Linked DNA regions of Homo sapiens: region 1 is linked to region 2. Evidence: fine-mapped expression QTL. A gene starts in region 2. The other region holds a variant in brackets. All regions are shown on one strand. Distances are from middle to middle.

The links. PIP is the estimated chance that this variant, and not a neighbour inherited with it, causes the effect.
Region 1: its variant is the best candidate, but not a certain one, in a credible set for the expression of LGR4 in fibroblasts (GTEx, PIP 0.54).

The regions. Positions count from the first base shown.
Region 1 is chr11:27,207,077-27,215,411 of GRCh38, forward strand. All of the region lies in intron 2 of BBOX1-AS1 (BBOX1 antisense RNA 1), which reads right to left. Among named protein-coding and RNA genes, the nearest start is that of BBOX1-AS1, 7.5 kb to the right of the region's middle. The variant G/A (reference allele first, on the strand shown) is at 4,792.
Region 2 is chr11:27,468,868-27,477,136 of GRCh38, forward strand. LGR4 (leucine rich repeat containing G protein-coupled receptor 4) reads right to left here and starts at 3,923. Exons shown (of 18, transcript NM_018490.5): 1 at 3,251-3,923. The coding sequence starts at 3,435. It overlaps LGR4-AS1 (LGR4 antisense RNA 1), which reads left to right and starts at 2,864. Exons shown (of 4, transcript NR_131170.1): 1 at 2,864-2,965; 2 at 3,911-4,090; 3 at 4,301-4,329. RefSeq lists silencers at 3,037-3,096, 3,347-3,516, 3,647-3,696.

The DNA.
Region 1 (8,335 bases), 260 kb before region 2:
CCTGTTTTTTTAAAAAAAGTTGAAAACTAATTCCTCTTTTTTCTCCCCCAGAAGAATAATGCTTATGCCTAGAGATAGAATGTGCTTTTTCTGTGGTCACACCATGACAAGGCAACAAGCCCAGTGTTTACTCAACTGCAGCCCCACTGAGTGCTCAGGAACCTCCTCCTCTGAGCCAGGGCTACAACTTTGGGCTCTGACGCATAATCTGGCACTAAATATTTGATGAAAAGCTTTGTCACTCAGCCATTCAACAAATATCCCCCAGGATGGATCAGACACTGTACCATGCATTGGCAATGAAGGGATGAATGCACCTCAGTCCCACCACTGGGAAACTCAGGGACTTACATTACAGTGACTAGAATTATGATATGCAGGGCAGGTTCTGTGGTTTGTTTGACCTCTCCAAACCTCATGCTGAAATGTGATCCCCAGTGTTGGAGGTGGGGTCTAATGGGAAGTGTTTGGGTCATGGGAACAGATCCCTCTCAATGGCTTGGTCCACTCCTCATGGTAATAAATGAGATCTTGCTTTATTCATTCCCACAAGAGCTGGTTTCTAAAAAAGACCCTGGCACCTCTCACCTCTCTCTCTTGCTTCCTTTCTCACCATGTGATCTCTGCACAGCCATCTTCCCTTCCCTTTCCTCCATGATTGGAAGCTCCCTGAAGCTCTCACCAGAAGCAGATGCTGGTACCATGCTTCTTGTACAGCCTGCAGAACCATAAGCCAAATAAACCTCTTTTCTTTATAAATTACCCAGCCTTGGTTATTCTTTGATAGCAATGCAAGCAGACTAAGATGGCAAGACAGATCACAGACAAAGGCTACCTAGCTCAGTCCTACCTAGCTCATTTCCAGGAAATGACATCTAAAATAAGGTGTGAAAGATAAGTGAAAACTGACCAAGCATAGAAGAAAAGAATATTGTTTTTTTGTAGAAGGAATAGCAGGGAGAGAAGAAATGGATAGCTTCCATGAGTCAAGAGAATGGATGAAACACAGGTTTTAAAGAGATGGTGGTCAGGATAGTTGAGATAAGAGAAGTAAACCAGAGTGGCTACAAAGGGCCTTACGAGCTAAGTTTAAAATTCACTTGAGTTTACTATCCCTGAATGTCCATTACCTCATTACAAGGGGAAGCCATGGAAGGTCTACTCTAAACTGACATAGAGAGATACCAAGCATGGGGCCAGGACAGAATAGGAACACAATAAATACCTGTTGATTCTGAATTCAAGCTGGTGATTCGTATAATCAAGGTATGTGAAAAGTGCAATGGGAGCAAGGAGGAGGGACGGGCTAGCTCTACCTGCAAGGGATGGGAAGATTCACAAGCAGGCAAAGTTGGCTTGGGCCTTAAAGGGTGAGTACGACAATGGGTGTGTTAAGTGACTTGTTATTTTTCTCTGCAATCTTCTATTAGCACATACTGACAGTCTTTGGGGTCCATCACACTCTCAAAGACCTTCATGCCTTGAAAATCCTGCAAATTCACACCTCTATTTCTAGTTTTTTATTTTGTACTAATGATGTATTATCATACTATAATGTTGGACTAGCTTTCCAAAGGCATGCGGTAGAAACAGGCCCCATCCCCAACAACCTTCTTCCTTACCAACAAAACATTAGCTTTATTCAAGACAGAAAAGTGCCAGCCCTGGGTTGGTGGGGGTTAAATCGTGATTGACCTAAGTCAGTCATGACTATTTCATTAACATTTGCCAGACACTCACTTTTCCAGGCTCCCTTGCATCTAAGGGCAGTCATGGGACCCAGTTCTGGTCAATAATATTGTGGTCATTTAGGTATAAGAGTGAATCAGCTGGGAGGGCTTCTGGGATACTTTTGTTTCCTCACTGATAAAATGACATAGTCATTCCAAGAAAAGGATCTTTTGCCACTCCACACTCCCACTCCTTGTCACCTGTCTACTTTTGAATACTGTTGTAATATCTGGAGACACGGCAGCCATCTTGAAACCATGAGAAACAGGCAGAAGAATCAATGACCTACATAAATATAGAGATGAAAAAGTGCCCGTCAACTCAATAATACTGTGGAACTGCTGTTCTCACTTTAGACTACTTATCTCCAGACTTCCTATTATGTGAGATAATCAAAGTGATATGGTGTGGGCCACTATCCGTCAGGGTTTTATTACTTATAGCCAAATAGATTTTAAATTATATAGATGTTTCCAGAAAGAGGACTATCTTTCTTCTCACCAGGATTATGAAGCTCTAAGACTATTAATAAAATGGCCAACTAGCCACACAAAGATGCAAGATATTGTTTTCCCAATCCAGAAAGCAGAAAACTTTCTTCCTTTAATCTTCCCTTCCCAATGATGACTCTTCCTTGGCTGGGAGGAGATGTTTGCACTTCAGATTTCATACCTCCAAATATTACCTATTGCTTCATTGCCCTTTATATTTGGCCAGGCCTTTATTCATGGTGGCCATTCTGGAGACCCCAGCTGGTTAGGAAAATTGAACTTGTCAAAAATCAGAGTGAGATTCTCCTTGGCAACTGCAAAGGTAAGCTGTCACCAGCCCTGTCAACAGTCACAGCAGAAAGAGAGCTATTTATTCATCTAAGACCTTCATGAGTCACAGTCTAAACATTCTGCAAACCCTCCCCTGGCAAGTCATACCCTGCCCCAGTCTCTGGGGAGAATGCTTCCCACCCAGAGCCACTTCAACACAACAGACTCTTGGCTTTGGCTGTCTAATCTTTGGGCTGCACAAGTGGTCATGTTATTAATGACTCTGAGTCATCATATAGGGTATTTCATCTGGAGTGTGTGTAAAGAGGAGGAAGATGGAGGGCTACTGTAGCCCAGACAAGAAGTGAGGCTTCCCCTTGCTATGCCTCTACCTCACTGTGTACCCTTCAAAATGCAACCAATTTCTTGCATTATAATGCTTCAAATCTCTCCACTTCTTGGTGAACTCCTTTTTTTTTTTTTTTTTAATGAGATTGAGTTTTGCTCTTGTCGACCAGGCTGGAATGCAGTGGCGTGATCTCAGCTCACTGCAACCTCTACCTCCCAGGTTCAAGTGATTCTCCTGCCTCAGCCTCCCAAGTAGCTGGGATTAAAAGCACCCACCACCAGGCCCGGCTAATTTTTGTATTTTTAGTAGAGACAGGGTTTTGCCATGTTGGTCAGGCTGGTCTCGAACTCCTGACCTCATGTGATCCACACGCCTTGGCCTCCCAAAGTGCTGGGATTACAGGCATGAGCCACCGCGCCCAGCTGTGACCTCCCCTTTTAATGCCCTCTTGTTTGTCCGTGTCAAGCAGCATTCAAAGAACTGAACAGTACCCAGATGGGTTTGCACAGTGCTGAGGGTGAGAGAGATGGCAGACAAGGGTTCTGTTTTTTATATATATATATATTTTTTTTTTTAATTTTAAGCCTAGGTTTTTAATTATACTTTTTCATTTTTGTTTTAAATTTCTGCTCCATGCCAGTGTATACAGTGAATATGACCATGCCCTTTGAATGTTAAGCCTTGATGGCACCTTTCATGCAGAGCTTGACTCCGTGTATGTAGTTTAGTTGTTACTTCTTTCAGGAAGTCTCCTCTTATTTATTTAAGTGGTGCTCCGTTTATGAGTCCCTATAACACCTGCTACCTTCCTTAACAAAAGAGTTTATCACACTGGTAATTTGGTCACTCCTGTGACTGCAAGGTCTGTAAGAGCAGGGTCTATCTCGTCACCTATGTCAAGAACATTCTCTGACACATAGTGGGCACCTCAACTAACATATAGCGAGTGAGTGAGTAGATGGGCCACCTTCTACAGCCTTCTACAACGGAGCAAATCCCAAAACTGGCCTTCAGGCCCCCAGACTTGGCCTAGACTTGGTAGAGAAGATGAGGACAGGACTGATCAGAGGGATGTTTCTGATATTCTATCATTCTGTGGTCACGGCAACATCAATACCTTGTGGATATGGACCAAGGCTTATAGTTTCCTGTCCAATAAAAGAGAATCTGGCTGGCCACAGTGGCTCAAACCTATAATCCCAACACTTTGGGAAGCCCAGGCAGGGGATCACTTAAGCCCAGGAGTTTCAGATCAGCACAGGTAACGTAGTGAAACCTCATCTCTACTGAAAAAACTAAAAGTTAGTCAGATGTGTTGGCATGTTCCTGTAGTCCCAGATACTGAGGAGGCTGAGGCAAGAGGATCACTTGAGCCTAGGAGTTCGAGGCTATAGTGAGCTATGATCGCACTACTGCATTCAGCCTGTTCAACAGAGTGAGACCTTGTCTCAAAGAAAGAAAAAAAAAAGATGGAAAAATAGGTCTTAATATTATACGTTTGCTGCGGAGATTAAAGGAGATTGCATGCTCACAGTCTGTGACCCATAGTAAGTGTTCAATACATGCAACTGCTATTATTACGAGCTAAGAAGGGACTAAGAACCAAAATCAATGTTTCTTCCTGTTATAACATAACCCTCCCACCTGAATGTCTGCCCCCTTGTGGTGTTGCCAGGGAATGCTAGGATTTATCTGGCTATCTTTCAATGCCTAATATGACACCTAATTTGAAATCACCTGGCACTCGCACACACAATGTACGCTCTTTTCCTTAAATCCAGATTGTACCTATTTACCTGGACGTATCCAGAACTTGCACTGTGGCCTTTTCCAGATGCAATCCAGCTTTTAAGATTTTATGTGTAATCCCCATCTCTCCCGACCTTACTGGACTTTGCCTCTGGACTCTCTGGAGTATGAGTCCAAGCAGCCCTCATAGACTCTGGCATG[G/A]GTTTGTCTGCTGACTCTCCTGGCTCCCCACTTCCTTGATAGGAAGTTCTCGTCATGTCTTCAAGTTCCTCTCAGCTGAGACCACAGCCAACTAGCCAGCTGGCTTCCTGGTTGAACAACCAACACCCCTGGGTCCAGCACAGAAATGGTACCCAGGAAAAGTGTATGGAATCCAGTGTCCTTATGTTTCCTGTCCATTTCCAGTTCATCACTGGGATGGGGCTGAGACCTTATCCTCAACAAGGCTAAAACCTCCTCTGAAATGGCTATGTGCCTCACACCAAAGGACAAGAAAATTGCCCATTGGTAGGCAAATGTGAGTGTGGGAGTGAACCCCAAAAACCTATCAATTACCCTGACCCGAAAAAACACTATCAATGTAAAATGCAGCCCAGAGAATAAACATATCCCAAACCAGTTTCAAAGTGTGATTGACACCAGATAAATTCATTTTGGGGGGACCATGTTAAAAAGGGGAAGGGAGAAACTCGTTGAGCACCATATGCCTGACATGTTCTCACATAATCCACACAACATCCTGTAACCTTGATAGCTCTGTCTTTAAGGTGAGCTGTGAAACTCAGATCAGATTAGTAATTTACCCCAAAAGTTACATATTAAGTGACCAAACATGGATTCAAGCCCATATCTGTCTCCAAGCCCAAGGTCTAAGAACTCTCATTCTCCCATACTAGCCATAAAAAGGTAAAACTCCCCTTCTAGAGATGATTACCCATAACATCTCCCCTTGGTAGACACTCTGTCTTCTCCTTTCCTCTGCAGACTTTCTGTTGAGATCCTGCCCAGCCAACCAGCCAGCGGGCTTTATTCTTCTTAAGGCCTTTAAGAAGGCCCTCTCTACTTAGAAAGGCAGTAGCATAGAGCACAGTCATTAAATCTGGTTCCAGAGCCAGGTAGCCTAGGTTCAAATCCCAGTGCCACTACTTACCAGCTTTGTGACATTGGACAAGGTATTTAGAGTGTCTGTGCCTCAGTTTTCTCTTCTGTAAAGTAGGGGCAATAGTAGTAACCTATCTCACGGGTGGTTGTGAAGATTGACCGAGTTCATATGGGGCTGACATATATTAAGTGCTCAGTAAGTTTTAGCTACCAGTATTACAAGTTAATTTTATAAAAATTTGACAAGGCATTATAAATTTCATTGGGCAGATGAGGAAACTGAGGCAGAGGACGGTTAATATCTTGTCCATGGTCACACTGCTTATCACAGGGAAAGCCAGGATCAGTTGAAAAGAAAAGGGGGGTCTCCCAATTCCTTACCCAGGGCACTCTGTCCTCCTGCTCACTTAACCAAGAGGCAGAAAAAGCAATTTACCTGTTAATACAAGACATAATCTCCCCTCCCTGATGTTCTCCCTGTCACATGAACCACAAAGAAGTCACCACAAACATCCATTTATTTATAAACCTACAACATTAGCCTCTTCACTTAAAAGCCTCTTGGTAACTTGCTGGTTAAAAGCGTTTCAGATTCTGTCAGAGAAACAAGCTCACACTGACATCTTGTCTCCATATGCCTTTGAAAACCTGCTGAGAGTCCCTTAATCCCTCGCTGAGGAACGTTCCTCTGCACTGTGTTCTTCTAAGGTTTCCACCGTTGGGTGTGGGTATTTTCTGAAAGCTCTCTCTTTTGAAAAATTCCCATGCTTTGAGTCATGCCAAAATCAGAGGGAAATGAATGCTGCCAAAAGTCCCAACATTTACATAAGCTCTTAATCAGCCCTCTGGTTCATTACAGTGTGACATATCAGTTACACTGCTGTTCAGGCAAAGAAATGGGGTCTTGGAATCTGCAGAGGGCCCTGGAAAATTGTGTTCTCTGAGTGGAAGTGGAGCAGGTTCCAGCTTCTCCCTTTATAAAAGTTCGATCTTGGCTGCATTTGTGTTTACGTATTTAGTAAATATTTATTGGTTTCTTAATATGGGGACCATAATAATTGATGGAGAGACAATAATAAGTAAAAAAGATATGACCCCTGACTTTATGAAGCTTATAGTCTAGATGGACAACAGACACTAATCAAAATAAAGGATACTGTGAGAGTATCTAGTGGGGGACATAAACTTGACCCCATCTGGGGTTCAAGAAAAGCTTCTGCTAGTGAATGATGTTTCACCTGGAATCTGTAGGTCTGGGGAGCAGGAACGTCTAGGCAGTGTAGTACAAAGCGGGGTAGATGAAGTAGAGAGAGCAGAGAAAATGAAGATAGATGAAGCCAGTGAGCTAAGTACATCTTTATTTTAGAGCTATGGGAAACCACTGAGAGCCTGTAGCCACCGTGTCTAAGGGCGTCACCATCCTGATTATTATAAAATATTCTCCCTGTATTATGGTTATTTCCCTGTCATCTCCTACCCTGATTGGCATAATAGCTACTATTTTGCTAGCACTATTTTATATATACACATATATATATTCACATTATATGTGTTTTTATATACAGAGAGACTACACACACACACACACACACACACACATATGGTCTCACCAATCCTCACCCCAACTCTATAAAGAATATACTATCATTATGCCCATTTTACCGATGAAAAGAAGGCTCAAAGACAGCAAATAATCTGCCTATGACTACACAGATGAGACAGGTTGGAAGGCAGGTCTCTCTGATTCCAAGGTCCAAGTTTTTAACAAGTCAATACTGCAAGTTCCCTGCAGTCAGCAGCTGGGTCTTTCTGATTCTGCTTGGTTTGCTAATGCCTGGCCCACAGGCATTACAGGTGTATGGAACTAACTTCCTTGCTTGTCCAAGCCTCCTGTCCCCTACTCCTCACCTAATCATAGGTGACGCTTCTAAAGCCCTTACTTACTGCATGCCAGCTATGGTTCTAGTACTTCATGCATATTTGCTCATTTTCATTTTTGCCGCAACCTATGAAGTAGGTACTATTATTTTCATCCTCTCCATTTTTCAGATAAGAGAACTGAGTTGCAGAAGCATTAATAGCTTCACCAAGGACACACAGTAATAAGCGGCCCAACAAAGATTCTAACCCAGGCCGACTGGATCCAGAGCTTGGACTCCTAACAACTAGAGATTATTGTTCCTTTCGCAATCCAGCCACATGAACCTCCTTTATATTTAATGCAAAATATGCATTGTTTTTCACCTCCAGCCTTCTCAAATGTCAATGTCTCTTCCTATGCATTCGCCTACTCCACCTAACCTCACTTTCCCTTGGGCTCCCTCCTATCCATCCTCCAGGATTCTTGGTCAGGGTCAGCTGCCCCTTCTGTGTGTGCTACCCCATCACCCTGTGCTTCCCCTTCCCAGCACTCAGCACATAAACTGGGTATTTCAACTACAGGTTCTCTGTCCACCTCCCACCCTTGACTTGAAGCTGCACAGGACAGGGTCCAAGCTACCCAGGCATTTCTATATCTACAATGCCTGCAGCTTGGCGGGGGCTCTATCATTACTGTGAAATGACCAGATACATTTATAAATAAGTGAATAAATTTGAATAGTTTTTTTGTACCCCAAAGTGGTTACACATAGCAGGCCTCATT
Region 2 (8,269 bases):
TGTGCTCGAGGTCTACGTTTCTCAAACACCGTAGCAATAACACACAAACCAGAGGACTCACATACACATTCCCCTCCCCATGACTTCATCTCTTCTCCCAATCTTGGAATGTAGGTGATTGAGTTATTAGCACAAATACAGTAATAACCTTGAATCCTTCTGATTAAACTTCGGAATTTTAATATTAGTAAGATTACTGCCTTGAACACTCCTCGGGGTGAATTGTGACAGGCCAGTGCATTGTGACACAAGATTGAATACTGTTGTTCAAAAACATAAATAGTTGCTACAGGTGCAGCAAATGGTGTGAATACAGGAATCCCATTCACAGTACTGAGGATCACATCTGACGCTGTCCCCAGACTCCGGTAAAGCGGCTTTCACCAGGAAATAGACACTGTTAGACTGAACAAGTTTCAACCAGCCTCAAGGAGAAGAAGCAGGTATTCTCTCTCTGGGACCTTCTCAAATCTGGACAAAAGGCTAAGTGCTGAGAATGAATCTGAAAATCCCCTGTGGGAATGGTGTCTGAATTCCATGCCACGGTTCTGCTCCTCGGTGTGGCCTTGCATCCTTATTTATTCACTCCAGCATTTTTAAGTGCCTCCTATGTACCGGGCTCTGGGGATCCCAAGTTGAGTAAAATAAAATCACTGCCCTGTCAGTCCCAGGATCTTTAAAGTGAAATGCACCCCCCACCCCTGTCCCCAGGGAAGGTGAAAGCACTACTCCAGGACAAGCCATTGAGCAATGAGAAGAAAATGAAGAACTCTGATTAGTAATTATAGTTTCATCTTTTTAACTTCTACTTTCATGATTGTAATTTTCTGTATAACTACAGAGGTTTTTGGTTCACATGCTCCAGCAATTAAGAATAGGTGAACAAACGCTTAGAGACCACGGAACTAGTCTCCTGATGTGTAACTGTATCTCAGTAAAGCTGCGATGGGAGAGCAGACTGGAAGTACTTGGAAAAAGACCCTAGGTGATCGCAACATGTCCCATATATGATCGACTGGAGTGTGCAAACCTGCAGCACTGGCCTTGCTTCATACATTGCTTTTGAGAATCACTGAATGAGCTAGTTTCCCCATGAGTAAAATGCAAATATGCTGTCCTTGAAAACCCTTTTAGAGAGGGTGGTTATATATATTTTTGAGGGTGAAATGAGTACTAAGGAGAAATAAGGAGTCACCAGAATGTACGATCACTCTACCTACAGGTCACAAATCTAAGAAAATAAAACACATTTGCACACCACCAAAGCTCAGAAAGTGCTAAGATAATGCTAGTTTAGGCACTCTAATTGAGACTGGTACCAATTATTTTTCTGTTTCCTAAGCCATGAACACTAACTTATTCTAAGGCCCAAAGTTGAAGATACAGCATTTCACCACCTTCAGTGAGTTCTACCAGAAGATGCTTTGGAGAGAGGAGTATGCTCTCATAAAAGTGTGATTATTTCTCTGTGGTTTTAGATACTAATGTAAAACAGCCCGTTTCCTTATAGGACAAGTCTACTCACTAAAATGTGAGGAATCTGCTAAACAAGGTCTTTACTACTGGTCAAAATAGTAAAATTGTGCTTTTCTATTCTATGCAGAGCCTTGCAAGAGGTTCAGGTAAAGGGACCTTTCTTTCTGCATTTCTTTCTGCACGAATTCCCTAAACGTTTCTAGAGAACTTGGGGAAAAATTAGTCCCATTTCCTCTCCACAGGTCTTCTTTCTCTTGATTCAATCAATTCCTGCTCAAACTTTCCCACTTAATGTAACTTTATGAACAAAATGCTCTTCACTGCAAAGTTAACTTTTTTTTTTAATGACAAGTTAAACTTCACTATACTGAAAAAAAAAAAAAACCTCAAATACATAACTAAAACTAACCTGAGACAGGAAAAATAACAAATGGGGAGGGGAAGGCTGAAGGTAGAAGAATGAAACAGGTTCCAAGACAACAGGCCTCGATGCTCACTAAAAGTCCATCCTGAGAGGGCAAGCGGAACACCTTTGCCACCACCCACCTGGAAATACAGCAATGCTCCTGCCTGCATAAAGATTTCTTCACAGGGTCCTTTAAAACTGTCTATTTCTAAGAGGTCCCTTCCACTACAGGTAAAAGGAAATTCCCTCTACCCTAGGGCCCCTCAGGATCCCTTCCTCTCTCACACGTTTCTTCGACTGCTCCTGATTTAAGCATTCAGCTGGCCACGCAACGCAAGAAGCAATAAGAACACAAAAACCCTACCCTGTTCCTCCTCTATCCGTGGCCTTTGCCACCACCTCCACAACCTAGTTCAGATTCCTCTTCTTTTCTCAAGGGAACGTCTAAAGCTCTCAAGTCCGTTTTGGCAGGGCGATTTTGTAAGTCTGAAACATTTCAGTGTGTCTCTCGATCTCAGGCAGCTCAAAAGAAAAGATCTGCTGGCTGCGTGAAGGTGCATTAGAAACCTGCTGCTACCTTGCAGCCTGGGCTGAGCATATGCTCCGGAACTTGCTTCTCTTCCAACATCCTGCACCTCAGGTCAGCATTCCTTCTTTAAAAGGCCTTGTTGGGTAAGAGCATGTCCACCAACAGAACCCTGTAATTCTCCCTTGTTTTCTCGGACTCCCCTGCGTGCTGCAGAAGCCTGGGCGTTAGTGGGGTAGTCCCGAGTGGAACTGGGCCGAGGTAGGTGCCGGGACGCACTACCTGGATGGGGCCAAATTGGAAGGAGATTCGCCCTGACTGAGGTACAGGTGTTTCTTCTCCCCACATGCTGGAACCCAGGAGGCTCCAGGTGCTTCCCCACGAGACATGCCTCGGTATGCAGACTGAGGCCAAGTTCTCGGCGCCCTCAGCCCCGCCAGTAGCGGAACTCCTGCCCGCTGAGCGAGGGCCCTCATGAGAAGGGAAGGTCGCGTGGACAGGCTGCCAGGGGCAAGCGTTTTTAGATTACTTCCTCCTTCTTGGCCCCAGATGCACTTGTGAGTTGGGGGTGTGCGCGGTGGGGTGGGAGGGTGCTTGTGCCCAAAAAGTCTGGGAACGAAAGCTACTGCTGGCTCGAACCCGGACTAGCAAAGTGCGGAAAGCCCGTGGCACAGGAGTGGGTGCCAGGCAGCCCGCACGCAGGTGACCGGCGGACCCCCTCCCCAGGCCCGGGCGGCGGCGGGGCGGGGTGGGGTGGGACTGACCCCTGGCTCCGCCCCGCGGCGCCCCCCGCTGGGCCCCGTTTCCTCCCCCCCCCTCGCGTCCCCGCCGCCCGCACTCACAGCGCTTGGGTGAAGGCGCTGAGCCCCTCGGGCACGGCCGTCAGCCCCTTCCCGGAGCAGTCCACCCGACGGTCGCCGTCGCAGCTGCAGGGCGCCGCGCAGAGAGGCGGCGCCGCGCCGCTGGGCCCGGCCGAGCCGAGCAGCCCCAGGGCGAGGAAGCAGAGCAGCCCTAGCGGGCCCGGCATTGCTGCGGCCGCCTCCCGCGCCGGCCTCTCCCGCGGCGCTGCTCGCTCCGCTGCCCTCCGATGTCCCCCGCCGCCCCCGGGCAGCCGGCCTGCGGGCTGGAGCGGGGGTCTCTTCCTCGGCGGTCCGCGCGGGCTCGGCCCCTTCAGCAGTCCGCCGCAGCGGCGCAGGGACGCGGCGCTCCGGAGTTTCGCCCTTCCCGCTGCTCCATGGACGCGCAGAGGCAGCCCCGCTCCTCCGGCGGCTCACGCCAGCCGGGCCGGCCCGGCGCAGCGGCGGGGGCCGCGCTCTGCCATCGCACCGGTCTCCCTGTCCCTGGCCTCTCAATGCAGCGGCTCTTCAAGGTTGCAGAGCGCAGCCTTCAGCCATGCCGGCCACTCGCCCCAGCCCCCGCCGTGGCTCTCGCACAAACACCCAGACTCTGGCTCGCTGTCTCCCAGCCGCGGCTCAATCTCTTCCCGTCCTTTTCCCTTCTAGGGTTGCACGCTCTGGTTCCCAAACCCCCGGCCGCTGGCTTATGCAAATCACTTAGGTACATGCAAAAGTATCCCTTCTCCCGGAGCGCCATTGGCCCGGGGAGGTCTCGAGCTCATTACTATGCAGAGAGGAGAGCCGCCATTGGCCAAGAGGAGGACCAGAGGGGCGTGTTTCTCGGGCGTGAGTGACAAGGTGGTGGTGGTTGTGGTGGTGGCGGCGGTGGTGGTGGTGGTGGTGGCGGCGGTGGTGGTGGTGGTGGTGGTGGTGGTTCAAGGCAAAATCTTGACTTGGCTGGATTTGTCTGGCAGGTTGTGGATTGAAGGTAGAAGGATAGTAGGACAAGGGGTCTAGTTTTTCCCTCCCCCACCCGTCTTTTTGTTCCCTCCGCAGAAATTGGATCTCCTAAATTGGATGACCTGGTAAGTAGAACTTCCCTCCAGCGTTCAGTTAAGTTTTAAATGACTCTCCGCTGTTCCAAAGGGCGAGGACGTCTGGAGCTCTGCAAACGGAAAAAAGATTTTGAAGAGGAGGAAAAAAGTTTCCCTCGATCTGACACACATCTTTGGGTTTTAGCTATACACTAAGTTAAAAGTGTACCCTCTCCAGTGCCTCACTTCACCTGGGATCTTTACACCTATCTTGATACACATTTGGTAGCTAAGTCTTAGCAATTCATTCTCCCCAGTCCTCTCTCTGTATTTGGTGTTTTTGGTGACTGCAAATTAGACTCCTTTCTCACGCACTTTAAAATCCTGAAACACAGGAATTTTGTAAAAGGTCAGAGAAAGTGATGTTTCTGAACACTGGACAATTTCCAAAACATCTGAGTGGGAGGTGACTACGGCTGAGAAGCCAGCAGCAACGTTGGTGTTAGGTAATTATCAGCATTCCCTCCTCTTCTGGATTTTGAGTCCCTGTGGCCTAATAGACCCCACGGAATCATTACCTGTACCAACTACGGCTTTAAGGGTACTTCGTTTCTTGCTCTCTGCCATGGCGTTGAGTCGTTTTACTCTATAATGGAGACATTTTTAATGAATACATTAAAACAAGCAGGATTCGGCCGGGCGCGGTGGCTCACGCCTGTAATCCCAACACTTTGGGAGGCTGCGGCGGGCGGATCACCTGAGGTTGGGAGTTCTAGACCACCCTGACCAACATGAAGAAACCCCGTCTCTACTAAAAATACAAAATTAGCCGGGTGTGGTGGCAGATGCCTGTAATCCCAGCTACTCGGGAGGCTGAGGCAGGCGAATTGCTTGAGCCCGGGAGGCGGAGGTTGCGGTGAGCTGGAGATCGCGCCATTGCATTCCAGCCTGGGCAACAAGAGCAAAACTCTGTCTCAAAAAAAAAAAAAAAAAAAAAAAAAAAAAGCAGGATTTAAAGATAATTATCATATAAAGTTGACTAGCCATCGTATGTAAATAAAACTTAGGACAATGGAAACAGGTTGATGCAGACCTATAAGTTTAAAATGAAAAAATTTTATCATCTTTGTATTTGGGAGTTTATCTAAAAGATAATGTCAGGTTGGGCACATAAGTCACATACAGTAAATCTGTCTAGAAGCTAGAGAGTTAATAAATAAACATATGCCTTCATTTCAAGTTTTAGGAATGACATATCTCCTCTCACTGCAGGGCTGAAAGACAACTTAAAGACCCCCAGAAAACTCTGGTTTTATAGATAAGAAATCTGAGGCTCGAGAGAGAGTGTGTTCTGCCCAACATCATCACGGAACAGCTCCTGGGCTCCTGGCTCCTAATCTGGTACTCTTAGAGCCTTCCCTAAATAGGCTTTCATCGTCTAAATCATTTCCATTATTTTCTAGCAACTGTCATGAACAAATAAGGAAGAAATTGTAAAGTTAGTTTCTGTAATCGTTTCTTTAAGATCTCTTCTTTTTTTTTTTTTTTTTTGAAACGGACTCTCACTCACTGTGTCCAGTGGCGTGATCTTGGCTCACTGCAACCTCCACCTCCCGGGTTCAAGTGATTCTCCTGCCTCAGCCTCCCCAGTAGCTGGTATTACAGGTGCCCACCACCATGTTTAGCTACTTTTTTTTTTTTTTTTTTTTTTTTTTTTTTAGTAGAGATGGGGTTTCTCATGTTGGCCAGGCTGGCCTCAAACTCCTCACCTCAAGTGATCCACCTGCCTTGGCCTCCCAAAGTGCTGGGATTACAGTCATGAGCCACGGAGTCCGGCTTATATGCAAATCTTGATTAAAAATGCAGAATGATTTAGTAGGCCTAAGTGGGGCCCAGAAACCAGCATTTTGTTGCACAGCAAGTGAAAGTGACACAGGTGATTCATGAACCACACTTGGAGAACTTTATTCTTTGTCTTCAAATAATAAAATCTTATGGCTGAAAACTTAGGTGAAAGGAGAGATTTATATTTTGAAAAAAGGGGAGATGCAGATTTTACTAAAAAATAAATTCCTATTGTCTATTAGATGACAAATGTAAGAAAGGAAGATTCAAATTTGCAGCTTAGCCAAGAAGATAAAAGATCAGGAACAAAAGACTTGGGTAGGGAACAGAAAAGATAAGATATATTGAAGTGTTTGTATTTCTTATTTGGTACATTTTGTATGCTTTGCATTAGAGATACATTGGTCAATTAGTCTCCATCTCTTGGATAAGATGTCCCAAGAAAGTATAAAGACAAAAAACAAAAAACCAGTGATTAAGGTAATATCTCAGATAACTAGAGAAAAATGATCAGCTCTTAAATAAATCATAAGGACTGGAAAGATACTGAGATAAACCAAATAAAAATTGACGGCAAGCAAAAAATAATAGGGTCTCTGTCTACAGATCGGTTCCTCTTAAAGTTTTCATTGGTTGTGTGTAAGTAAATTTGCGGCATCCACAGGCTAGATAAAAAATAGAACTGGGCTGCAACCCCTCTGCATATGTGGCATGGAGCTTATGGGCCATGAAGAAAGTACCCTATCGTAGTGATACTTGCCTTGGTGTCTTTGTGCAGAGCACACAGGACTTGTTGACTGATGGATAAGCTGGACTTCGGTTCTACCACCCCTTTACCCAAGAACTCTTGTAAACATAGAACCTGAACAAGTATATGCAGAGGCCCTACCTGTTGGGTGAACGGTTCAAGGTGCCCTGTTACAACAACAGCTCAGATACAGTGGGGGCTCTGAGTGCTGTAATGATTGACTGGATAAAAGTCCTCAAACATGTAGAATTTCACTTTTTATGAACTATTTCGACTTAGAAAAAGAGTTAACAGCAATCAGCTTAAGAAATATTACGAATGTAGTTGAAGCTCCCTTTGTACCACTCCCCAATCATATTCCTTTTCTTCCTCTCCCTGAGAAGTAAGCAGTTTCCTAAACTTTGTAGTTAATTCCCATGCATATTTTCATGCTTTTCGTATGCATGTATCCCTAAACAATAAACAGCATTGTTTTTCATATATAAATCAACATCATTGCGTACTGTTCTGCAACCTGCTTTTTCACTCAACCTGTGAGTGTAATCGACATTCACGAACTATGAGGCTTGTAACTTCATTTTTATTACTATATAATATTCCACTTAATGAAATGCCCAGTGTGTTAGGGTTCTCCAGAGAACAGAACCAATAGGATATATATAGAAATACAGAAAGAGATTTATTGTGAGGCACTGACTTATACAATTATGGAGACTAAGTGACAATCTTCCATCTACATGCTGAAGGCCCAGGAAAGCTAGTGGATTTGTTTTAGTCCAAACTTGAAGGCCTGAGACCCAGGGGAGTCAATGATGTTTTGGTCGAAGTCTGAAGGCCTGAGAACCAGGAGCAGTGAAGTCTGAGGGGAAGAGAAGACAGATGTCCCAGCTCAAGCAGAAAGCAAATTTATCTTTTCACTCTTCCACCGTTTTTTGTTTGTTTGTTTTTTTAAATGGTGTTTTGTTTTGTTTTGTTTTTGAGATGGAGTCTCTCTCTGCGGCCCAGGATGGAGTGTAGTGGTGTGATCTCAGCTCACTGCAGCCTCCACCTCCTGGGTTCAAGCGATTCTCCTGCCTCAGCCTCTCAAGTAGCTGGGACTACAGGCATGCACCACCACACCCAGCTAATTTTTGTATTTTTAGTAGACAAGGGGTTTCACTGTGTTGGCCAGGCTGGTCTTGAACTCCTGACCTCAAGTGATCCACCCACCTCAGCCTCCCAAAATGCTGGGATTACAGATGTGACCCACTGCACCCGGCCTTCCATTGTCTTTTTGTTCTATTCAGGCCCTCAATGGGATGCACAAGGGCATCTTCCTACTCAGTCTACTGAATCTCTTCCAGAAATACCCTCACAGACACATCCAAGATGTAATGTTTTACCAGCTATCTGGCTATC